Linked DNA regions of Homo sapiens: regions 1, 2, 3 and 4 are each linked to region 5. Evidence: fine-mapped expression QTL. A gene starts in region 5. Each other region holds a variant in brackets. All regions are shown on one strand. Distances are from middle to middle. Region 1 overlaps DNAJB14 (DnaJ heat shock protein family (Hsp40) member B14). Region 2 overlaps DNAJB14 (DnaJ heat shock protein family (Hsp40) member B14). Region 3 overlaps H2AZ1-DT (H2AZ1 divergent transcript). Region 4 overlaps H2AZ1-DT (H2AZ1 divergent transcript). Region 5 holds the start of DAPP1 (dual adaptor of phosphotyrosine and 3-phosphoinositides 1).

The links. PIP is the estimated chance that this variant, and not a neighbour inherited with it, causes the effect. A credible set is the group of variants that fine-mapping cannot tell apart.
Region 1: its variant is the best candidate, but not a certain one, in a credible set for the expression of DAPP1 in blood mononuclear cells (TOPMed, PIP 0.82).
Region 2: its variant is the best candidate, but not a certain one, in a credible set for the expression of DAPP1 in whole blood (TOPMed, PIP 0.58).
Region 3: its variant is the best candidate, but not a certain one, in a credible set for the expression of DAPP1 in whole blood (TOPMed, PIP 0.73).
Region 4: its variant is the best candidate, but not a certain one, in a credible set for the expression of DAPP1 in whole blood (TOPMed, PIP 0.62).

The regions. Positions count from the first base shown.
Region 1 is chr4:99,900,021-99,905,129 of GRCh38, forward strand. DNAJB14 (DnaJ heat shock protein family (Hsp40) member B14) reads right to left here. Exons shown (of 8, transcript NM_001031723.4): 7 at 3,706-3,878; 8 at 1-1,132. The coding sequence ends at 1,008. Among named protein-coding and RNA genes, the nearest start is that of LAMTOR3, 8.1 kb to the left of the region's middle. The variant T/TG (reference allele first, on the strand shown) is at 2,229.
Region 2 is chr4:99,912,051-99,917,159 of GRCh38, forward strand. The region is part of intron 3 of DNAJB14 (DnaJ heat shock protein family (Hsp40) member B14); the gene reads right to left. Among named protein-coding and RNA genes, the nearest start is that of LAMTOR3, 20 kb to the left of the region's middle. The variant A/G (reference allele first, on the strand shown) is at 1,997.
Region 3 is chr4:99,966,936-99,972,044 of GRCh38, forward strand. All of the region lies in intron 1 of H2AZ1-DT (H2AZ1 divergent transcript), which reads left to right. Among named protein-coding and RNA genes, the nearest start is that of H2AZ1-DT, 19 kb to the left of the region's middle. The variant C/G (reference allele first, on the strand shown) is at 2,403.
Region 4 is chr4:99,955,513-99,960,621 of GRCh38, forward strand. The region is part of intron 1 of H2AZ1-DT (H2AZ1 divergent transcript); the gene reads left to right. Among named protein-coding and RNA genes, the nearest start is that of H2AZ1-DT, 7.6 kb to the left of the region's middle. The variant A/G (reference allele first, on the strand shown) is at 3,187.
Region 5 is chr4:99,814,644-99,819,752 of GRCh38, forward strand. DAPP1 (dual adaptor of phosphotyrosine and 3-phosphoinositides 1) reads left to right here and starts at 2,184. Exons shown (of 9, transcript NM_014395.3): 1 at 2,184-2,371. The coding sequence starts at 2,271.

The sequences.
Region 1 (5,109 bases), 85 kb after region 5:
TGTTTAGGAGTTGGCATAGGGTTAAAAGGCACAAAGCTGTATTTTAGTACTCATTTTTCTTATTACTTATTTGTAAAGGAACTTCTTTGGATCCTGCTTAAATGATCACCAAGAAACTGCAAATTTCTATGGGGGAAAATGTGAGTCCTCTTCATAAATTTTAGCAGCCCTTCAAGGACATATACATCAAAATTTGGTGGCCTTTAAAGTATTGGAATTTTAAATGACATAACTGCACTTTACTGTTGAAGACCCTTTTAGTTTAATATTTATAGCCATTTCCTCATATTTTCTTTAAAATTTATCAGTATAGCATTTCATTTCTATGCATGTATATGTATAGTAATTCATAAAACTAAATAGCAAACTGATATTCTACACCAGTTCATTTATCTCAATATATATTTTGGAATATAACGGCAATATTAAAAATATCAATTCCCTCTAAGCTGATAATACTATAAGATTTTACACAAAGTTAAAGTTTTTGTTTTTTCTTTTTGAAAAAGTTTCATTGTTTAAAGTCCACATATTTGACACCTTGATAAGGAAAATGTAAATGTGTCATATAACATTTATTCCATCAATTTAAACTGAAGTGTCTCATGGAGCTAAACACTAAAAGAATTTAAATAAAAAAGCAGTAACCTGTATGTACACAAAATGATCATTCCATAAATATTTACATGACAAGGGAAAAAATGGAGAATCACTAAAACTGGAAATTGCTACAGGTGTGATAATCCTTTCTCATGACACTTTAGTTAGGAATCATGTAAGCTTTTAAAATGAAAATACTTGTAGAAGCGTTAACTAAAATATTCCATTTTAGTTTTCAGTTACTATTTAAAGGAGCCAGTAGGTCATAAACAGTCCAAGATTTCAGGAACCAACTATTCAGTTTAGTTTTCAGTATCAAATCTTTTCCTTCATCCCTCATGATGAAACCAAACTTACTTACAGAAAAAATAAAGAGTACGCTAAAAGGTATAAATAAAAATTCCAGTTCATCCTCCTTTATAAAGACTGGTAAGCCGCTCTAATTCTTTACAGTTGTCCATGCTCAAGGCATCTGCCTTCCTTCGGAGTCGATCATCACGGTATACTTTTGCTGCATACTGCATATCTGTTTCTGTTAATAAAGAAAAATATTTTGCTAATTGAATAAAATTTTTGTCACCTAGTTGCTTAAGCTCAAGTGATGCTTTACAGGAGCCCTTTGATATATTTTGATTAACTGACTTAAAAAAAATCAAAGTACAATTCCTAAAAGCCATTTTAGTAGGAAAAAAATTTTAATGAAAACTTTATTTGAAGTATAGCAGGTAAAACAAACACAGAAAATAAATAAGGATAGAATCCTGTCAACTCACGTTGGAATCCTTTCTCTCTACTCCTGTTCCCCAGTGGTTTAAAAACTATTCCTCTGAAGCATCATCTTGGACTCTTTTCCTAAAAATATTATATGCTTTTCAATACTGCCAGTGGTTGTTTCACTGTGGCCTTCTGTTAAGATTTCAGATTATCCCAAGACTTAAGTATTTAATAAAAAATTTAAAATCTTGTTCTGAGTTTACTTAAATTAAAAAATACATATAATAATATTACTGAAGGAACACAGATAAAAAAAATGCTTGTTATACGATCGTAATATTGCTATTCAGCAAATAAGTACTTCTGAGGCTTCCTTCAGTGTGTGGGACAGCACAGCTACTAATGATATACAGACTACAAATCAAAATTCTTCAAGGAGTATTTCTTGTTTTTTCCTGTTACTCTCAGTCATTTCACTGTTTATTAATACCTGTAAAGACTAGGAGCACTTAAAGAAGATGTAACAGAAAAAGAAATCAGTTACTTTCTGGAACACAATGGCCAAAGTAGAAGACATCTGGTTTATATGGATTAGTCAAGATCACATTCAAGATATACTCACAGTTAAGACAGTATTCCATTTGTAAAGATCTCCAGAAATAATCTTTACTAAATCAACTGGACTAGGATTAACAACTCAATCAATATTATCCTATGCCTTTTATTTACACATAATGCGCTTATATCTATTTACAGATGACTCTTCCCAAAGAAGAAATTTGAGACTTAGATAAACCGAAGTTCACACTGCTAACGAATGGCAGAGTCTAGATTCCAGTCCAACTCTCCAATGCCTAGCCTAATATTCTTTCCATTATTTCAAGTACTGCTTGGGCTGGATAATTTTTTTGTTG[T/TG]GGGGGGTCTGTGCATTGTAGGATGTTTAGCAGCATCCCTGGCCTTAACCCGCTAGATGCTAGTAGCAATCCCTTTCCATTCCCATCCCATGATGACACACAAAAGTATCTCCAGACGTTACCAAACATCTCTAGGGATGGGTGGGGTGGGGGAAGGGTGGCAACTCACTCCCAGCTGAAAACATAAAAATCACTAGTCTAATGTAAGCTTCTCCACACTGAGGACAGACTGATTTCACAAACTCATTGAGTTAGAAGTCAAAGAGGTCACATCTCTAACTGCCACTAAATAGAGGAGAAAACCAAGACCAGAGAGGTTAAGGACTCTCTTAGAAGTTACATTTTATCAACTTTTCCCTAGCAAGGGGGAGATGATGATAATTGCTGACATTTTCTGAGCATTCACTATGTGTGAAGTACTTTATTGCCTGATTTAATTTTCACAACAAACCCCATAAAGTTGGTTATTTCTGAGAAGACGTTGGAGCACAGGGCCTGGATTCTAGAGACAAATTGTCTGGTTTTCAATCACAAACGACCTCTATGACCTTGGGCAAGTTAGTAATCTCTCTTTGCTTCAGTTTCTTCATGTGTAAAATAAGTATAATCTCACAGGGTTGTTGTGAAGATTAAATGAGTTAATACTTACAATGTGCTTGGGACAGTGACTGAAACAGGCATTATATAAATGATAGCTATTATTTCCTCCTCCCACTCATCATCACCCATTTTACACATGAAACTCATAGAGGTTACAATTCGTCAGCTAAAAATTTCAGAGCTAGGATTCAACTTTACTCAGTTTAATTCCAAAGTCAGTTCTCCTAACACTACACTATATGGTCTACATTATTATTCACAACAATGGTCACAAAAACAAGAACCACAACACTCAATTCACATGCAACATCTCAGCAGATTCTTATATCAATCTTTATAGATGGAACTGTTCCTTAAATTAAGAAAACTGAGGCTGGAAAAGCCTAAGCAAATGAAGTGTTCTGAAGAGTCTCTCTGTGTACAAAGTAAAGAAAAAAGAAATGTCAACAAAACTCATTGTACATTAAATTCTAAATACAAAAGCTAAATTAATAGAGTTTCAAACTTAACTCTGAAAACAGTATGCATCTTAAAATTGATGACATAGTTTATCTGCCAGGATATTTTTTGTTTCTTGGTGGTACATAAAAGAATGATGTGTCTTATGATGGATATTATCAATACAATAAAATTTGGTATTACTTATTCAACCAAATATTTATTGATAACAATAGACAAGTACCATTTATTAAGTCCTTACTATGTGTCAATTCCGATGTTAGGCCACATGTATATAAAACACATGATCTCATTTAAGTACTGTGCTCCAATTATGTGCCAGGGAATTCCAGAACATTCCTTGAATAGGGAAATCTACATTAATCAGTTCCAAAGACTGCGAATAAGTTTTAAAATGTTAAACACATGACAAACTTACTTTGTTGTCTTTCTTTCCAGCAGTTATTTCGAATATTAGTCACATAATCTTCCTCCACACTCTTTTCTACCTTTTGTAATAACATTCCTTTATATTCATTTTTGAAGTCCTTGTTGACATAATAAACAACACCCAAGTTTTCTGTTTGCATTTTAATAGTTTGCCCAGTTCCACTGTAAAAGAGATGCATCATTATTTTAATTAAAATTGGACATTCCAATATGCTGCTATAAACCAAGCAAACAAAAACAATTAAAAATCATTGAAAAGTTAATATTGGTAATACAGGTTGAGCATCCCTAATCCGAAACTCTGAAATCCGAAATGCTCTAAAATCTAAGACTTTCTGAGCATCGACAAGATGGCACAAGTGAAAAATTCCAAAGCTGACCTCATGTGATGGGTCACCTTTTAATCAAAACACAGCATCATAGGTGGAAACTAAAAGCCTGTAGTTGTTTGTCGTTGCTATTGTTTAACAGCTGACACGGGTATTCTGGTGATGCTAATATGCTGGTGGTTATTTAAACCTGAATACATTATTTTTTCACTGTTAAATACTTATATGTGAATTAGAGTAAGAAAATTATTGCTTATCAGTAGCATATAAATTCAGAGTCAGGAATGATGCCAAACAACCACAGGTTGTCCACATGGGTGGCTGAGATAGTGATACCTTTGCTTTCTGATAGTTCAATGTATACAAACTTTGTTTCATGTACAAAGTGACTAAAAATATTGTATAAAATTACCTTCAGGCTGTGTGAATAGGGTATATATAAAACATAAATTTCATTTTTAGACTTGGGTACCATCCTCAAGACATCTCATAAAATATATGCAAATATTACAAAATCTGAAAAAATCCAAAATCCCAAAATCCAAAACACTGCTGGTCCCAAGCATTTTGGATAAGAAATACTCAACTTTTAATTTATTTACATTCTCTCACATTGCCTAAAACCATGATTTCATGTCACAAAAAGTAACCACATTTTTAAATATACTATGCTTTTGTAAAGTATCTCAATTTTTTGTTAATAAAAATCTTATTTGTATTATAAATTACAAAAATCAACTTGTAATTTATTTACGTTATCTCAAATTGCCTAAAACCATGATTTCATGTCACAAAAAGTAACCACACTTTTAAATATACTGTGTTTTTATAAAGTTATCTCAATTTTTTGTTAATAAAAATCTTATTTGGAAGAAATAAGGTAATTGTTATTTTTAGACCAATGTGATTTTAATACTGTAAAATCACTGATTTTTATTATTTTTTCTTTATATGCTTCTTATTTATTCATGCTGCTATAACAGCCAATATGATGTTATAGTTTCCTTTATGTTCACTGTATTAAAGTTGTCTAGATTGCATGCTGTATTAAATTTCCTTTATGT
Region 2 (5,109 bases), 97 kb after region 5:
TAAGGGATGATACTTTTCGTCAGGGTTAATTTTTTGGCCTATGGGTGTCCAATTGCCTCAAAACCAACTGTTGAAAAGGCTATCTTTCCTCCATCGAACTGCTTTTGCATCTTTGTCAAAAAACAGTTGGCTATATTGGTATCAGTCTATTTCTGGGTTTCCTATCTCGTTCTATTGATCTATGTGTGTATCTCTCTGCCATTACCACGCAGTTTTGTTTACTGTTTATCTATACAGTAAATCCTGAAATCAGGAACACTGATTACTCCAACTACATTCTTTTAACAGAAATAAATGTTTTTAAATATTCAGGTTCTTTCTTCCCCTCATATGAATTTTAGAATAAAACTTGTTTCTATCTACAAAACAAATCCTGCTAGGATTTTGACAGGAATTGTGTTAAATCTGTATATCAATCTGTGATGACTTGACTTTTTTTTTTTTTTAAGACAGAGTTTTGCTCTTGTTGTCCTGGCTGGAGCGCAACGGCGCGATCTCGGCTCATTGCAACCTCCACCTCCCAGGTTCAAGTGATTCTCCTACCTCAGCCTCCTGAGTAGCTGGGATTACAGGCATGCGCCACCACGCCTCGCTAATGTTGTACTTTTAGTAGAGATGGGGTTTCTCCATGTTGGTCAGGCTGGTCTAAAGCTCCCGATCTCAGGTGATCTGCCCACCTCGGCCTCCCAAAGTGCTGGGATTACAGGTGTGAGTCACCGTGCCCAGCCGACTTGACATCTTTACTATGTTGAATCTTCCCATCCATGAACATGATATTTCAGTCCATTTATTTAGCTATTTTCTGATTTCTTTAATCAATATTGTATAGCTTTCAGTATATAAATGTGATAAAAGTTTTATTAAACTTACACCTAAGTATTTTTTTGTATGTATGATTGTAAATGCTAATGTATTATTAATTTTAGTGTCTAAATATTCATTGCTAGTAAATAGAAATGCAATTAATTTTTTGTAGATTTATATTGTGTCCTGCAATCTTACGGGATTTGCTTTGTAGTCACAGTTTTTTCTGTAGATTCCTTGGATTTCTACATAGATAATCATGTCATTTGCACATAACAACAGTTTTAGCTCTTCTTTTCCAGTCTGTATGCCTTTTATTTCCTTTTTCTCTCTTTAACGCAGTGATTACTACTTCCTGCACTTTGTTGAATATGAGTGGTAAAGAGATATTCTTGCTTTATTCTTGATCATAGGGGAAAAGCATTCAGTCTTTCACCATTTAATGTTAGCTTACAGGAGTTCTGTAGTTGCTCTTTATCAAGTTGAGGCAGGTCCCTTCTATTGCTATTTTTCTGACAGTTTTTATCATGAATGGGTGGTGAAATGTATCAAATGCTTTTATTCCACTGATTAATATAATCGTGGGATTTTTTTTCTTTAATTAATGTGGTGGATTACACTTATTGATCTTCAAATAGTGAATTGACTTTGCTACCTTGAAATAAACTTCTATTGTTTGGGGTATATAATTCTTTTTATATACTGCAAAATTCTGATATTTTGTTAAGGACATTTGGGTTTATCCCACAAAGTATACTGGTCTGTAGTTTTTTTTTTTTTTTTTTTCTGTAATGTCTTTGGTTTTGATATAAGCAAGGTAAAACATTTCTTAACATTAACTGGAAAATGTCTCTTCCTCTTCTATTTTCTGGAAGAGATTATGTAGAATTAGTTTTAATTCTTCCTTAAAAAGTTTGGTAGACTTCTTCAATAAGAGCATCTGAGCCTGGATATTTCTTTTTTGGGAATTTCATAATTACAACTTTAATTCACTGAACAGTTCTGTCTTAGTCCATTTTGTGTTGCTATAGAAAAATACCTGAGACTAGCTTATGGTTCTATAGGCTGAAAAGTTTGTGGGCATAGCCTTGGCTTCTGGTGAGGGCTTTTGTGCTGCATAACATGGTGGAGAAAATCAAAGGGGAAGCAGACAGGTGCAAAGAGGGGAAAACCTGAGGGGTGTCCTGGCTTT[A/G]TAACAACCCACTCATTCGGGAAATAATCAATTCCTTCAAGAACTAATCTAGCCTCAAGAGAGCAAGAACTTACTACTGTGAGAACAGCAGCAAGACATTCATGAGGGATCTGCCCCCATAACACAAACACTTCCCACTAGGCTACACCTCCCAACACTGCCACATTGAGGATCAAATTTCAATATACTGAACCAACCCAAATGTCCAACAATGATAGACTGCATTAAGAAAATGTGGCACATATACACCATGGAATACTATGCAGCCATAAAAATGATGAGTTCATGTCCTTTCTAGGGACATGGATGAGGCTGGAAACCATCATTCTCAGCAAACTATCGCAAGGACAAAAAACCAAACACCGCATGTTCTTACTCATAGGTGGGAATTGAACAATGAGAACCCTTGGACGCAGGAAGGGGAACATCACACACTGGGGCCTGTTGTGGGGTGGGGGGAGTGGCGAGGGATAGCATTAGGAGAAATACCTTATGTAAATGACGAGTTAACGGATGCAGCACACCAACATGGCACATGTATACATATGTAACAAACCTGCACGTTGTGCACATGTACCCTAGAACTTAAAGGATAATAAAAATATATATATAAAATAAAAAATAAAAATAAAAATTAAAAAATTTCAATATACCCAAACCACAGCAATTTCTACAGGGCTATTCACGTTATCTATGTCAGACTGAGTTGTGATGATTTGTATTTTTCAACTAACTGGCCCATCTCATCTAACTTGTAAACTTATGTATATGGAATTGTTCATAGTATTCTCTTATTATCCGTTTGATGTCTGCAGTGATATCCTTGTCTCTGACACCATTTCTGACAATGGTCATTTCTGTCTTCTTTTTTTGGTCAGTCTTTCAATTTTATTGATTTTTTTCAGAGAACCAGCTCTGTTTCATTGATATTCACTATTGTTACTCTTTTCAATTGTACTGATTTCTACTCTTATAATTTCTTTTGCTTGCTTTGAGTTTATTTTGCTATTCTTTTTCTAGATTTGTAAGGTAGAAGCATAGATAACTGATTTGAGGCTGTTCTTCTTTTCTAACATATGCATTTCATGTTACAAGTTTCCTCTCAGCATTCCTTTAGCTGGTCTTCTCAAATTTTAATTGTTGTATTTTCATTTTTAGTTAGTTCACTGCGAGCTCCGCCTCCCAGGTTCATGCCATTCTCCTGCCTCAGCCTCCCGAGTAGCTGGGACCACAGGCGCCCGCCACCACGCCCGGCTACTTTTTTGTATTTTTAGTAGAGATGGGGTTTCATCGTGTTAGCCAAGATGGTCTCAAATTCCTGACCTTGCGATCCACCCACCTCGGCCTCCCAAAGTGCTGGGATCACAGGCGTGAGCCACTGTGCCTGGCCAAGTTAGATCAATATGTTTTTTCAAATTTGTTTTGATATTTCCTGTTTGACCCATGGATACTTAGAAATTTGTTGTTCAGTTTCCAAGGACTGGACGTTTTCCTATTACCTTTGTGTAACTGATTTCCACTTTGATTCCACTGTGGTTAGTGAACATACTTGTATGATTTCAATATTTTAAATTAGTGGAGGTTTATCTTATGAATCAGGATATGGTCTCTCTTCCTGTGTGTTCTGTGGGCACTTGAAAAGAATTTGTAGTCTGCTGTTGTTGAGCGGTATGTTGTATAAATGTTGATTAGATCTTGTTGAGTGATGGTGGTGTTTAGTTCTTCTATATTCTTGTTGATTTTCTGTCTAATTGTTCTATCAATTATTGAGAGAGAGGTGTCAGAGTCTCCAACTATAATTGTGACTTTGTCTATTTCTTCCTCCAGTTCTATTAGTTTTTGCTTTACATATTTTGCAGCTGTCTTTCGGTGCATATACATTTATGTCTTAAAGGACTGACCCTTTTATCATGTATGTGTTCATAATGTACTTCTCTGGTAATTTTTTTTACTCTAAAACCTACTTGCTCTAATATTAATATAGCAACTCCTGTTTTCTTTTGATTAATATTTACATGATATATTTTTTCAATCTTATTTTTATTCTGGATATAGTGTTATCAAATAATTTTCTTGTAGACAACATACAGCAAAATCATGTTTTGTTTTTGAAACAAGGTCTCGCTCTGTTACCCCAGCTGGAGTGCAGTGGCACAATCACAGGTCACTGCAGCCTCAACCCCCCAGGCTCAAGTGATTCTCCCACCTCAGCCTCCCAAGTAGCTGGGATAACAGACACGTGCTACCACATCCAGCTAATTTTTTAATTTTTTATAGAGATGGGGGTCTCACTGTTGGCTAGGTTGATCTTGAACCCATGGGCTCAAGTGATCCTCCCACCTTTGCCTCCCAAAGTGCTAGGAATATATAGGCATGAGCCACTTCACCTAGTGAAAACATGCTTTTAAAATGCATTATGCCAAAAGACTTTTAATTGGCATAGACAGGTCACTTACATGTAATGTAATTACTGATAAGTTAGGGTTTAAGCCTGCCATTTTATTTTTTATTTTCTGTTCTTTCATTCCTGTTTTCTTTTTCCTGACATCCTGTGAGTTAGTTTCTTGAACATTTTTTAGAATTCCATTTTGACTTATCAACAGTGTGTTCTGAGTATATATCTTTGTATAACTTTTTAGCGGTTGCTCTAGGTATTATATATACATTATATATACATAATTTATATGTGTTATATATACATAATTTATAACCCTCTGGTGTCATCATTTTGTTAGTCTGAATTAAGTACAGAATCCTTACCTCCCTTTACTTCCCTTTATCTTCCTCCATTTAAAACATAATTGCCAGCCGGGCGTGGTGGCTCAAGCCTGTAATCCCAGCACTTTGGGAGGCTGAGGCGGATGGATCATGCAATCGAGAGATAGAGACCATCCTGGCCAACATGGTGAAACCCTGTCTCTACTAAAAATACAAAAAAATTAGCTGGGTGTGGTGGCACATGCCTGTAATCCCAGCTACTCGGGAGGCTGAGGCAGGAAAATCGCTTGAACCTGGGAGGCGGAGGTTGCAGTGAGCAGAGATTGCACCACTGCACTCCAGCCTGGGTGACAGAGACTACGTCTCAAACAAACAAACAAACAAACAAAAAATTG
Region 3 (5,109 bases), 150 kb after region 5:
AAGAGAGAACTGAAGAAAACATAACCTTTTTTCCTTATCCTTTCTTTAGAAAAAGAGGCCAAATGAAAGAATATGAATATCTCTTTAAAGTAATTAATGGCTTAAGGGCTACAAAGTACTTTGAAAACAAAAGCAAAAATTTCTCCTAATAAACAGCAACAAGAAACACATTTGGTCTGGCTGTAGTATTTCTGTCAGTGGGAGAATTAGACACACAAGGATAGAGTTCCACATTGTTTTTCATTGTTGTTGTTGTTTGTTTGTTTGTTTTGAGACAGAGTTTCGATCTTCTTGTCCAGGCTGGAGTGCAGTGGCGCGATCTCGGCTCACTGCAACCTCTACCTCTCAGGTTCAAGCTATTCTCCTGCCTCAGCCTCCCAAGGAGCTGGGAATACAGGCATGCACCATCATGCTCGGCTAATATTGTATTTTTAGTAGAGATGGGGCTCTTACCATGTTGGTCAGGCTGGTCTCGAACTCCTGACCTCAAGTAATCCACCTGCCTCAGCATCCCAAAGTGTCGGGATTACAGGTGTTAGCCACTGTGCCTGGCCCACATTGGTTTTTTACTTTGTGCCTGCTAAGGATCATTTCACTACGGTGATGTTAGGTCTTATTTAGATAAAATGTTATTCTGTCTTTTCAGGTGAATGGTAGAGAAAATAGATTATATTCCTGTGGGCACTGCTAGTACTTTCAATACTTTTATAATGGGCTCATCTGTATCTCTTTACTCTCATTTTTTCATTTTTTAATGGTCTCAATCTAGATGATTCTTTTCCCATTTAAAAAGCCATTATTTATTAATTGATTGATTCTTGAAAAGGCTAAACTTGTCAATGTTTCAACATTTAAAAGGCTAAAAAAAGTGGTATAGAGTGAAAATTCTCTCTCCCACTCCTATCCTTCAGTTGCTCAGCAATGTGTTTTCTCCATAGTTTCCCTGATCACCTGCTTTTGTTTACAAAGCTTTTGTTGCTTCCTCTATCTGAAATGTGCTTCAGATAGCTGTCAATTTTTGCACTTTACTTCTTCAAAATATGGCTCAATACTCTCCTTTAGTGAACATTCCCTGAGCCACCATCTCCAAAATTGATCTCTTATTCCCCTTGATTCTGCATCATTGAATATGGTTTGTACCCTGCTTTCTTTAATATACTTTAAATTGCTAATGCTCCTAAATTACTTTCATATTTTCTGGAATGATTTTAGATTTTTGAATAGCCTACAGATTTACAGTGCCTTGAAAGCAAGAAATGACTTTTATTTTATTTTTCCTACGTAGCAGTCTGGATCTATGCAACTAGTTGGTGCCTAGTATCTTCTGTATCCTCAAAAATTATTAACTGGCATTTCTCAAAATTTGGTGCATATCAGAATCCTGGGGCCGAGAATGGAGGGGAGGTGGAAAGTGGGGAGCTTTTGAAACTCGTGAATGGTAGGATTCACCCCATACCAATTAAATCAGAGTCTCTTGGGAGTGAGATTTGAGCATAAACAGTATTTAAAACCTGCTGGATGACTTCAATGCACAGCTATGTTTTAAGAATCAGTGATCTAACCCACTCCCTGCCCTCAATTTCAGTGATGACCTCATTCCATGAGAATCTGCTCTTCCTACCAGTGTTATACAATTCTCCCTGCATCTGCACCCATCTTCTGCTTTTCCCCCACTACAGCTAAGAAAGAGTTCCTCTGCTTCCCATAGGCCTCCTTCCAGCTGCCACATTGTCTTTGCTCCCTTTCACAGAAACCTTTTCATGGGATTTTTCTTTGCAGGTGGTTGTCACTTTTTCACCTCCAAATCTCTCTTCAACCACTTATATTTGACTTTCATTCCCATCAGGCCTCCCAAATGGTTCTTGTCACTGTTAATTGCCATGTTGCCAAACCCAAGGGTCAGTTTTCTTCCTTCTTTTTACCTCTCAGCAGCATGACCACACTTTCCACCAGATACTGCCATTTCTTGACTTCCAGGATACCATATGGTTGCTTCTCTTCTCCTTTTATTGCTTTCTTTCATTTATTTTCTCTTCACTACCTGACTTCAAGATGGCACTTTCCCAGGGCTTGGTCCTAAGCCCTCCTCTTTCTCCACATATTTCCATGTACAACTTTTAAGTAGAGATGATTTCAGATAGTAGATGACTGAAAATTTTTTACCTTTATAGTTAAGTACAGTTGTCTCTGGTTATCTCTGGAGATTGGTTCTACGAACCCCGGTGGATACCAAAATCATCAGATGCTCAAGTCGCTGATATTAAATGTTGTGGTATTTGCATATAACCTATGCACATACTCCTGTGTACTTTAATCTCTAGATTACTTATAATACCTAATACAATATAAATAGTTGATACACTGTATTGTTTAGGAAATAATGACAGGAAAGACATTCAGTA[C/G]AAACACAATTTGTTTTCCAAATATTTTTGATCCACTGTTGGTTGAATCCATGGATGTGGAATCCACGGATACAGAGGGTCCACTATTTATTTCACCTTGACAGGTAAGCATTAGAAAAGACTACAACCTGAAAATCAAACTCACATTAAGGTTAGAAAGTGAAGAAGAGTGAGTTCAAATAGCAAATCATATGGCAAATTTCAGAAAATCTGCTTTTTACACATCTCTTTTCTTTTCCTAAATTTCTTCTCAAGTTCACAGCTATCTTCACTCTTTCCAAAAGCCTCTATCTATGGTCAACCATTATATCTTCCCCTGGCCCCTTTATAATTTTTCCCCCAATCATACTCTCCAGCCTCTTGGTTCCATTCTCCCCCCTCTTCATTCATCTCTGGCAGAAGCACATCTTGCTGATGAGCTTCCAGATGCCCTGTATTGAAACTGCATATATTACTGAGAAGTTAGGTTTCACTTAACTGGGAAAGCTTCAAAATAGGGAACAAATACCTTGCAAGGAAGCCGTTGAAAATTTGCTGGATATAGAAGAGATACTCTGGGAAAGAAAGAGGTGTGGTAATAAAACAATATACAAATATTTTAAATAATAAAGTCTGTCTTAGACTTGTTGTCTAAGAATCTAGGATAATTCACATTTAAGAATATTGGTATTCTTTGGGAGCCCAGGAGCCCCAAAAGCACCTGGGTCAAGATCAGAGCTGGCATCTTGATCACCAAGTTAACTTATTTTAGCATTACCAATATATAGTCTCTCTAATTATTAGATTTGCATCTCTAAGATTCTAATATAATGGTCCTGATATAAAACTACTATTTTCTAATAGTTCTGTTAGAATCTTTTTATTTTATTTTATTTATTAAATTTGATTTCATTTCTTAGAGACTGGGTCTCACTGTCACCCAGGCTGGAGTGCAGTGGCACAATCATATCTCACTGCAGCCTTGACCTCCCATGCTCTAGTGATCCTCCCACTTCAGCCTCCTGAGTAGCTGGGACTACAGGTGTGTGCCGCCACACTCGAATAATTTTTTTATTTCTTATTTTTTGTAGAAATGGAGTCCCACTATGTTTCCCAGGCTGGTCTTGAACTCCTGGGCTCAAGTGATCCTCCCGCCTCAGCCTCCCAAATTCCTGGGATTACAGGTGTGAACTACTGTTCCTTGTCCCATAGAATCTTTCTAACTCTGACGTAATAAAATAAAATTTGACCTAACAGAATATCTGCAATAATTCTATTTTTACTTAATAATTCTAGTAGTACCTGCAGGTCATATTTAGATTATATATATTAGATTATAATAAAACTGCAAGCAGTATGTTGTTTTTGTATGACAGGAAATAAAATAATACAAATAACCAATATCTTAATGATTAACCCATTTCTGTTTTTATCCTGGTACCAAATTTTGGCTTTGTTTTTGCCATTTTCAATGGCGTTCTTTAGTATGGGGAGCATTCAGTCATCTCTTTCCAGAATCAACAGACTGTATCACCAGATAAACTGCCAATGAGCCAGATAAATAGGATATAAATCCTCAGTTTCTTTAGAGTAAAAAAAATACTAACTTATACATTTATGTAATGATTTTTAACAAGTCAGCCCTGTTTTATCCTGCTCCAAGATGGCCAACTAGATGCAGGCAGGAGGAACATCTGCAACCAAGTGACCGAGACATTGGTAAGACTGGTGCACTCCTAGCAGAACTTCAGAGGGAAGCCATTGAGAACAGATGGAGAAAAGACACAGATGCTGAGCTGAAGGGGAAGGAAACTGGGAACCTTGCACAGGGCTACTGTTCACCAAGACTCATTCCTGGTGTCCAGCAACTCCTGGGGAAGGGGTGACTTGAACAGGCAAGGAACAACCCACTTTTACCACAGGACTCTGGAATCCTGGCAGGAGGAGACCCTGTGATCACCATGGACACTTGCGTTGGCAGGGAGAGCTGCTTAGATAAGTGGTTGGGGCAGAACTACAGCCAGCATGGAGCCCAGTTGGTTTGATGTGGGAGCATCCTTAGTGGAGAATGGCCAGTGATGCCCATTCCCCTAGGTTCGACTTGATCCCATAGGAGACTTGAGCCCTGGTAGTACTGTGCAACCTGAACTCTGCTGGGTGGTCTTACCTGTGACACAGGGCGGTCTGACCTGAGCACCCTTCATTCTGCTGGTCTCTCCTGGGGACCCGGCTTGACCACGCCTGCTTGCAGTGCAGCCCCCAGGTACCTCCTGGGGACCCACATTATAGCTTCTGGCTGGTGGACCTGGCCTGACCAGCAGAGTGCTCTAGCAGAGAGGCTGGCAGACTCTCACCAGCCCACCTGCACCCTCCCCACTTGGCAGCCTGCCCTGTGTGCTTTGCCCTGTGTGATGGCTACTCACTTATGGCCATCCCTCTGCATCACTTTGCTGGCATGGGTGGACCTTTCCTTTCCTTTCTTACCAGCGTGCGTGTACAGGTGCACCCTGCCATGCCACTGCTGCCTGCATAAGTGCACCCATCCTTCCCCCAACCGCACTGCCATTGTCGTTGGAGCATTGGCAGGCACGAGCCCGCTAGCCCTGCCCTGGCTAATGCCCCAGCCCTGTGCTGACACTGCCGCTGGCATGAAACATAGGCATGGAGGACAGTGGATCTACCTCCACCCTGAGGACCACCTCCACCTACAGGAACAGGCACAGAGGGC
Region 4 (5,109 bases), 140 kb after region 5:
ACAATGTCTTAATCATTAAAACCACATTAAGAAGGCTGTTACAGGCTGGGTGTGGTGGTTTCCGCCTGTAATCCCAGCACTTTGGGAGGCCGAGGTGGGTGGATTGCTTGAGGCAAGGGGTTGGAGACCAGCCTGGCCAACATGGCGAAACCCTGTCTCTATTAAAAATACAAAAATTAACTGAGCATGGTGGTGCATGCCTGTAAGTCCCAGCTACTTGGGAGACTGAGGCATGAGAATTGCTGGAAGCCAGGAGGCGAAGGTTGCAGTGAATGGAGATCATGCAACTGCACCCCAGCCTGAGTGACAGAGCGAGACTCTGCATCTAAATAAATAAATAAATAAATAAGGCTGTTACAAAATAAGTATCTGATTGGCTGCCAAATCAACAGTACCTCTAGTTTAAAGGACAGAGACAGTTGCAAGCTGGAGCGTTTTGAAGAGTTTACGTTTAAATGGACTAAGGAGAGTGTTTGATTGGAATGGTGAATTGGTGTAAGAAGTAGCACTTAGAAGGTAGGACACATAGTGTTTTAGTCTGTTTCGTGCTACTGTGATGAAATACCTGAGACTGCATAGTTTATAAAGAACAGAAATTTATTTCTTACAGTTTTAGGGGCTGGGAAGTCCAAGATCAAAGCAGTGGCAGGTTTGGCTGTCTGGTTGAGGGCTGCTCTCTCCTTCGAAGATGGAGCCTTGATGTTGTATCTTCTAGAGTGGAGAACACTGTGTCCTTACATTGTGGAAGGCAAAGAAAGTTGAAAAGGGATGAACCCTCTCCATGAAGCCCTTTTATGAGGGCACCTAATCTCAATCATGAGGGTGGTCCCATGACTCAATCTCCTCCCAATGGCCACACCTGCCAACACTTTTGCATTGTGAACTAAGTTATAGCATAATTTTTGAAGGGGACAAAAACATTCCAACCATAGCTAATGTTCATCAGAATAAAGCTAAATTTGGTCTTGAAAATAAGTTTTGACCAAAAGGTGTAAACTTCAGTGGTGGGTGCAACATCCAGGAAGTTTCCTTAAATGAGGCAAACCAATTTTTTATTTTTGCTGACTGGATTGAAGACAGAATTGGAGAGCCATCTTGAACCATGAAATGAGCTTAGGAATATAGGCCACACATGAGGGAATAACAAGATAAATGGAGCAAAGGCCTTAGATACTATGGAGTCTCAAACCTACCCTGGATCTCTCTGAACATGGGCATCTATTTTGTTTGAGCCCCTTTTATTTTGGGTCATCTTTCACTTGCAGCTGAACCCAATCCTAACTATTATAATGAGTCAATACCCTAAATACTTGGAGAAAGATAGCAGACTTTACCCTGAGAGACTGAGGAACCAATTAATATTTCTGAGAAAGAAAGAATACAGGGTTCCTCATTTTTAGGATACTAATCTAATATGGGTTACAGGGCAAATCAGAAAAGAGAAAAATTTTGTTAGAAGGCTGATAAAGTTGATATCAGTTAGGTATAAAGCCTATGATACAGTTTTGCTGTGTCCCCACCCAAATCTCATCTTGAATTCCCATGTGTTGTGGGAGGTACCAAGTGGGAAGTAATTGAATCATGGGGGCAACTCTTTCATGTGATGTTCTCATGACAGTGAATAAGACTCACGAGATCTGATGGTTTCATTGTTTTGTTATGTTTTGCTTTTTTTGAGAAAGAGTCTCCCTCTGTCACCCAGCCTGGAATGCAGTGGCACGATCTCAGCTTACTGCAACCTCTGCCTCCCAAGTTCAAGCCTCAGCTTCCCAGAGTAGCTGGGACTACAGGCGTGCACCACCACACCCAGCTTTTTTTTTTTTCTTTTTTTGTATTTTTAGTAAAGATGGGGTTTCATCATGTTGGCCAGGCTGGTCTCAAACTCCTGACCTCAGGTGATCCGCCTGCCTCAGCCTCCCAAAATGCTGGGATTACAGGTGTGAGCCACCACATCTGGCCGAGATCTGATGGTTTTAAAAACAGGAGTTTTCCTGCACAAACTCATTCTCTCTTTGCCTGCTGCCATCCATGTAAGATGGGACTTGTACCTCCTTGCCTTCTGCCATGATTGTGAGGCTTCCCCAGCCACGTGGAAATGTAAGTCCAATTAAACCTCTTTCTTTTGTAAATTGCCCAGTCTCAGGTGTGTCTTTATTAGCAGCATGAAAACAGACTAATACAGCCTAAAACTTACATAACACTGAAACCAAGAGAAGGTTGTAAAACATCTTGAAAGAAAAAGCACTAATATTTTGTTATTAAATATGCTGTTTAGGAAGATGTAGGGGGGATGGTGGATACTAAGCACTTAAGAGAAAAGAGCCAGGTTTTTGAGGTTGGTGGTCTGGGATATAAAGTAAAAGATCATCTATAGAATAGGAGAGGTAAAAGGATAGATGCAAATTAAGAGGGGTAGAGAAAGAGGTAAGTCAGGAAAGTTATGAAATATTGACTGTACATTGACATTAGGGGAATCCAAGTGGAATTTCCTACTAAGTATGTTGGCAATAAGAGAAAGCAATCATTAAAAAGTCAGGAAACAGCAGATGCTGGAGAGGATGTGGAGAAATAGGAACACTTTTACACTGTTGGTGGGACTGTAAACTAGTTCAATCATTGTGGAAGACAGTGTGGCAATTACTCAAGGATCTAGAACTAGAAATACCATTTGACCCAGCCATCCCATTACTGGGTATATACCCAAAGGATTATAAATCATGCTACTATAAAGACACATGCACACATATGTTCATTGCAGCACTATTCACAATAGCAAAGAGTTGGAACCAACCCAAATGCCCATCAATGATAGACTGGATTAAGAAAATGTGGCACATATACACCATGGAATACTATGCAGCCATAAAAAAGGATGAGCTCATGTCCTTTTTGGGGACATGGATGAAGCTGGAAACCATCATTCTCAGCAAACTATCGAAAGGACAGAAAATCAAACACTGCATGTTCTCACTCATAGGTGGGAATTGAACAGTGAGAACAATTGGACACAGGGCAGGGAACATCACACACTGGGGGAGGCGGGAGGGATAGCATTAAGAGAAATACCTAATGTAAATGACGAGTTAATGGATGCAGCACACCAACATGGCACATGTATACATATGTAACAAACCTACGCATTGTGCACTTGTACTCTAGAACTTAAAAGTATAATAAAATAAAAAA[A/G]ATAAATAAATAAAAATTTTGAATTAAAAATAAAAGAAAGAAAATTAAAAGGCAGCCAAAGAAAAAGACCTAGAAAAGTAAAGTGTGATTTCACAGTGGGCACAACAACTTTACACTAAACTAGAAAACTCTCTTTAGTTATAACATCTAACAAGATGGTGTTCACATTTCTGCATGTGTATTGCTAGCTTTGCATAATGAACTTCAAACCTGTTTTTGATCTGTGATACTTGACTGTTCACCAAAGATGAAATGTTGACATGGATTCTGTCACTAAATTGGGTATTACCAAAACTCTTGGTTGTTATGTACATTTCTTGTGCCCAATGTTACAAAAGAATCATAACTGAGAAAAACTCATGGGCTAAATTCCTTATGTTTGAAATTCCATACAGCTTTCTTAAAGGGAATCTAAGTGCCACATTTGTCCTAAAAGAGAGGCGCCACAAAATAGAGTGTAAAGTTATACAACATATACTTCACACCCCTCCACAGATTCAGCCTCAGGGCAGGAACCGTATAAAAAGTGTGACCATCACACCTTTTATTAAAATCCCAAAACAGATGTATGTGACTCCCCAGTCCTTTCAATAGGATGGAAATGGCTCAGAGAAGAGTCCAAAGGCTTTTCTTTCAATAAATAATCCTGAGATAACTGGCAAGCCACATGTAGAAAAATGAAACTGGGTCCTCATCTCTCACCTTATAAAAAAGATCAACTTATGATGGATCAAATAGTTAAATCTAAGACCTGAAACCATAAAATTTCTAGAAGATAACATTAGAAAACTCTTCTAGACATTGTCTTAGGTAAAGAATTCATGGCTAAGTACCCAAAAGCAAATGCAACATAAACAAAAATATATAAATGGGACCTAATTAAACTAAAAAGCTTTTGCATAGCAAAAGAAATAGTCAGCAGAGTAAACAGACAACCCACATAGTGGGAAAAAATATTTGTAAACTATGCATCTGACAAAAGGACTAATATCCAGGATCTACAAGGAACTCAAACAAATCACCAAGAAAAAAACCAAATAATCAAAAGACATGAATAGGCAATTCTCAAAAGAAGATATAGAAACAGTCAACAAACATATGAAAAAATGCTCAACATCACTAATTATCAGGGAAATGCAAATTGCAACCACAATGAGATACCACCTCACTCCTGCAAGAATGGCCATAATTAAAAAATCAAAAAATAACAGCTGTTGGTGTGGATGTTGTGAAAACGGAGTTCTTTTACGCTACTGGTGGGAATGTTAACTAGTACAATCACTATGGAAAACAGTATGGAGATTCCCTAAAGAACTAAAATTTGAATGGCCATTTGATTGAGCCATCCCACTTCTGGGTATCTACCCAAAGGAAAAAGAGTCATATGTGAAAAAGAAACATGTACATTCATGTTTATAGCAGCACAATTCACAATTGCAGAAATATGAAACCCTCCTAAATGACCATCAACCAACAAGTGGATAAGGAAAATATCGTATATGTATATATATTATAAATACTACTCAGCCATAAAAAGGAACAAAATAATGGCATTCGCAGCAACCTGGATGGAGCTGGAGGCAATTATACCATGTGAAGTAACTCAGTAATAAAAAACCAAGCATCATATGTTCTCACTTATAAATGGGAGCTAAGCTATGAGGATGCAAAGGTGTAAGAATAATATAATGGACATTGGGGACTCTTGGGGAAGGGTTGGAGGGGGTGAGGGATAAAATACTATACATTGGTGGGCACTGCTCGGGCGACGGGTACACTAAAATCTCAGAAACTGCCATTAAGGAACTTATTCATGTAACCAAAAACCACCTGTTCCCCAAAAACTACTGAAATAAAATGTTTTAAAATAAAGGCTTTTCTACACCCTTAGACTTTCTCAACTCTGTTTTGTAGTGGAATGCG
Region 5 (5,109 bases):
TGCCTTCCGGGTTCACGCCATTCTCCTGTCTCAGCTTCCTGAGTGGCTGGGATTACAGGCGTCCACCACCATGCCCGGCTAATTTTTTGAATTTTTAGTAGAGACAGGGTTTCACTGTATTAGCCAGGATGGTCTCGATCTCCTGACCTGGTGATCCACCCGCCTCGGCCTCCCAAAGTGCTGGGGTTATAGGCATGAGCCACCACGCCCGGCCCAGAACAAGATTCTAAATCCCCTTTCAGTTACACAGCAATAGATGTCCCGGGAGGGATGGGCTCCAGCATTTTGTTGAAACTATCTAGCAAGCCTCCTGCAGCTGTTACCACTGCAAAACTAAGTGTGTAGTTAGTGGAGTGGGCGGGGTGGTAGGGATACTGTGAAAAATTGAGTAAATGACAAAGTGGGACAATGACATCAAAGGAGAGGGCAACAGACAGGACAGCAACATGAGGAAGGGCAAAAGGCAGGAAGATTCAGCCAGAAAAGCAGGACGATCTTAGAAAATTCTGCTACTTGTACTTCCAAAAAAGTTAAGAAAAAGAACAACCAGAATTTGCTAAAAATGGGAATGAAATAGATACTAAAACACCAAATAAAGGGCTCTAGAGAGGGAACAGGAACTCTAGTGCCCAGGCTGTTCCCCTGTCACTGCTGTATGCATATTCAGTATCTCCCTGGCCTGCACTGGCCTCTCTGTTCAAGTGGGCCCTGTCCTTCTCTGTGAGCAAACTGTAGCCAAAAGAATTTAAGTGCTCATTTAGTCAGTTATATATGTATTATCAGAGCTTAGTCTTCAGCAGACTGCCTCCAGACACTCAGGAACTTCCCACTGGCAACCAGTGTTACCCGGGTCTCACCGATCCCGGGTGAACAGTGGTAATAGGGAGGAAGATGAAGGATAGAACCATTGCACAGCAGCCTTTTGCAATCATCTAGTCCTTTAGGAACAGTTCTGCTGTGCTGTTTAGTCCTCAGGCCACACTGTGAGAACAAGTTACAGAGCACTGTGGTGAGTGCTGAATGAGTCAGGGAGTAGAGATAGGAAGAGAGAGAGAGAAAGGGAGAGGGAGAGAGAGACCTGTAGGTACATAGAAAAGGCAGGAAGCAACATATGTCCTTGACTCATTTGATACTGCACTTTGTTCCACTTCCCAAGGATTCAGTCACTGCAATTTACCTTTAGCATTCCAGGCAGATAGAATCCTGCTCTACATATGAATCTGGGCACAAAGCCATGCAGGTGTGAGTAAGCCCATGAAGGAAGTGGCACTCAAAGACTCTAGGAGTTCAGGCCAGGTGCAGTGGCTCATGCCTATAAGCCCAGCACTTTGGGAGGCCGAGGTGAGTGTATCACCTGAGGGTGAAACCCTGTCTCTATAAAAACACAAAAATTAGCAGAGCATGATGACGGGTGCCTGTAATACCAGCTACTTGGGAGGCTGAGGCAGAAGAATCACTTGAACCCTGGGAGGTGGAGGTTGCAGTGATCTCAGGTCATGCCATTACACTCCAGACTGAGTGACAGAGCGAGACTGTCTCAAAAAAAAAAAAAAAAAAAGACTCCAGGAGTTCTAATATGCCCCATTAGGTGGGCACCAGAATGGCCCCTTGTAACTTTTTCCTACCTTCTCCTCTCCTAATTCTTTTTCTGTGGAGGAAACAATAATTGTCTCTGAATCATCCCTATTCGGAGCATTGAGGATATATTAGAAGGTCTGGGTAAACAAGCAGAAATATTGCAAAAGTGCTAAAACATCAAACTTCAGGGTCGAATTTGTGGTTTGCTTCTGCTTTTTCTATCCACTCTAAAGGTGTTCCTGATAGAGAAGCTTCCTCAGTGTTCCCTGTGTTGGTGTGTAAGACAGAAAGAAGATGGGGTAAAAGAGTGCACGCATCCTCCACTACAAACCAGAGGCTGATAGCATTAGGGAGAAGCTAGGGTTTGGCCTCACACAAGCAGTTTGCACTGTTGTCCAATCCCAGGTGGGGTGGTTGCCTCTTCATTTCCTTTGATAGCAACCGCCTGTTGCGTGATGTAGTGTGGGTGTCCTCAGAGGTAGCTACCTAAGTTTGCATACTTCCTGACTGACAGAACACTCCTGCCAGTGCCTCCAGGCCAGGGTGGTGGTGTTGGTGGGAGGAGTAAGTAACCAAGTTTCACTTCCTTGCCTTGGAGACTCAGAGCCATAGCAGGCTGCTGTCTCACAGAGCGAGAAGGTGTCAGGAGCAGCCCAGTTGTGTCTCTCTCTCTACCTCTGTGAAGGGCGCGAATGGGCAGAGCAGAACTTCTAGAAGGGAAGATGAGCACCCAGGATCCCTCAGATCTGTGGAGCAGATCCGATGGAGAGGCTGAGCTGCTCCAGGACTTGGGGTAAGGCAGCAGATCTCCTTTCAAAGTACCTAGTGGGTGGACATTGACTCCGCACTCCCACCTGCATGCTTTGATTAATGACTATCTTCAGTGCCTTGTTGCCCTCTGCCACCTCAACCATTTATTTTTTTCCACTTTATTCATTTGTATCTGTTAAGTATCTTCTTGTCTGGGGCTAATTCCATTGGAAAAGCAGGCATTATTTTTCTAGATGTGAAAACAAGTTGGTTGAGAAAATAGGGAAAAAAATCAAATGTTGGACATTCTTTGAGAAGAGGGACAGAATTGGGATATAGAGGTGATGTTGCCTGGCTTCCTTGATGTTGCTCTGGTTTATGAATAAATGCGCTGTTCAAGAGTTTCTAGCACTGACCCAGGGACAGTAAAAGGACTGTGTTTCTGGTAAGATAAACAGAAAGCTTACCCTACTGTAAGGGAGAGGGACTTTTTCAAAAGACAGAGAATGAGGAAGTTCCTGCAACAGTCTCGCTTGTATATTTCTTTCTCCTGATACTGCATTTGTGAGATTTGATATCGTATGTATGTCCAGAGAGCCAACTTTGAGCCTTTCAGTACCAACAATCCAGGAAGAGGATAAAATTTCTGCTTCAAACAGGTAAGCATAGGTAGGTGGAGTCATTGGAGCTCTGTCTTTAAGAAGGGACCCAGATGACAACTCATCCGGGTATTTAATAAGAAACAAGTATTACACAAGAGAGGAATTGGGGATTTCCCAGAGAAACTGCCTAATGCACTGGGAATATCCCAATGAAGGTGGCTTTGACACCTGTGCATGAGGAGAGGCAAAACCTTTACCTTCTGCCTGGACAAATAGCTCTAACTCTTCATAGCAATCCAATGACATAGGAGCTGTTGTCATCTTCATCTTACAAAGGATGAAAACAAGTACCAAACAGGTTTGAATAACTTGCTTGCTAGTCACACATCAATTACATAGCAAAGCTGGGCATCCAACCTACCACAGGCTATGTCCGAAACCAAAGAAAAACCAAAATAGAGTTGAAATCTCTCTGTGTTAAGGCTGCAGAGATTGTATCTTTTTATGTTGTATTACTGTAAAAGTTTATTAATAATTCCTGTCTTTAGATTATAAAACTGAGGTCTCGGAATTGAACTCTACTTTCATTTGGCAAATCAGATAAAACACCTGGAATTTTCATTAAAGAAAACTCCCCTTATTAGGAAGCCAGAGCTCTAGAATCTCTCTATCCCTCTAGATTGAATCCCCAAACAGAAGAGGTAAAAGGCCCTTCTGTGAGCATCCAGCACAGGTGTCACCAAGTCCAAAAGCTAAAGCTGAACTGTGGCCCTCAGTGTCTTATTGAACTATTAAGTTACAATGCTTTACATGTTCTGTTAACTGTATTCCCAGCCCACTGTAATAGAAAACCCCAAAGGAGGAGATAGAGGAATATATTCAATTCTGGTCCTTTAGTTAAACAAACAATCCTAGAACCCAGAGTCTATGGTTGAGTACTGTGGGAACACACTTAGATGACAAAGATGAATTAGATGCTGTCTCTGTGCCCCACCATGATGTCAACAGCAAGAAGCAACTACAGGTGAAACCCACGGGTGGAATAGGACTGTGTCTTTCCTCCATGTGCAAAGAATAGACATTGAATACAAAACTGAGTCACACCACTTCCCTGCAAAAAAAAAAGGGTACATTCATGGCCAGATTTCCCTATTTCAGAAGGCGTGAACAATTAATAAACATGAGGATGATTTCTATAGCAATGGGCAACCTGCAGTTATCTGGGAAAACTGCTCTACAGTCCTGGTTCTTGACCTTGGCTGTGCTCTGGAACATCTTGACACCCAAACCACAGACTTGACAAATGATTTCAGTATCTCTGGGGATGGGTGTTTTCTTGTCAAACTCTCCAAGTAATTCCAAAGTGAGACCCTAGGTTGATGATCACTGCATAGAATATGTATCTACCAAATGCATTAGGTAAATGTGGTCTTGTTTTTCATTTTAAGTCTGTTGGGTGTGTACTTGAATCTTAAAATTACTAATAAATGTTGATATTTTGTTTGTTGGTTTAGGGGCATTTCGATTAGCAACTTTATTGAGGTTATTTTACATATCATAAAATATACCCGTTTCAAGTGTACAATTCAATACTTTTGACTAACTTTACAGAGTGATACAACCATCACCATAAATCAGTTTTAGGACATTTCTGTTCTCCCAAAAAGAACCCTCAGATGTATGGCTTATTTAAGCATACTCAACAGTGTGCTGGAAAAACAGCTGGGAAGAGTTGGGGTGTGGAGAAAGCCCTGATTTCAAGAATTTGCCTAATTCCCTGGTATAAATACTCCCACTATAGACAATTTCAAGCTGCCAACAATTTAACATCATCGAATTGAATATTTAATAATCAACTTGTGCCAGTACTTGCTCCTGCAGCACCTCACTGATACATTTTTTATAGATAACAATTTGAGAACTCTTGACAATGACTTGTTGCCTCTGCCAGAATACTGAACATAACTCGAACATTATAATGACTTTTTCTTTGAACCTTTAACCACTGGCGAGATAGAATCTCTACCAAACCTTCTGATTAATTTAGTTTCCAAAGACCTCCTTAAAAACAAAATGATTTAATGTAATGGATAGATAAAAGGTAGCTGGTTTTAATGACTTAATTTTTCAATTATTTTTAAGAGGTTATTTGAGTAGTTAGATAAATCCTTACGTTTAT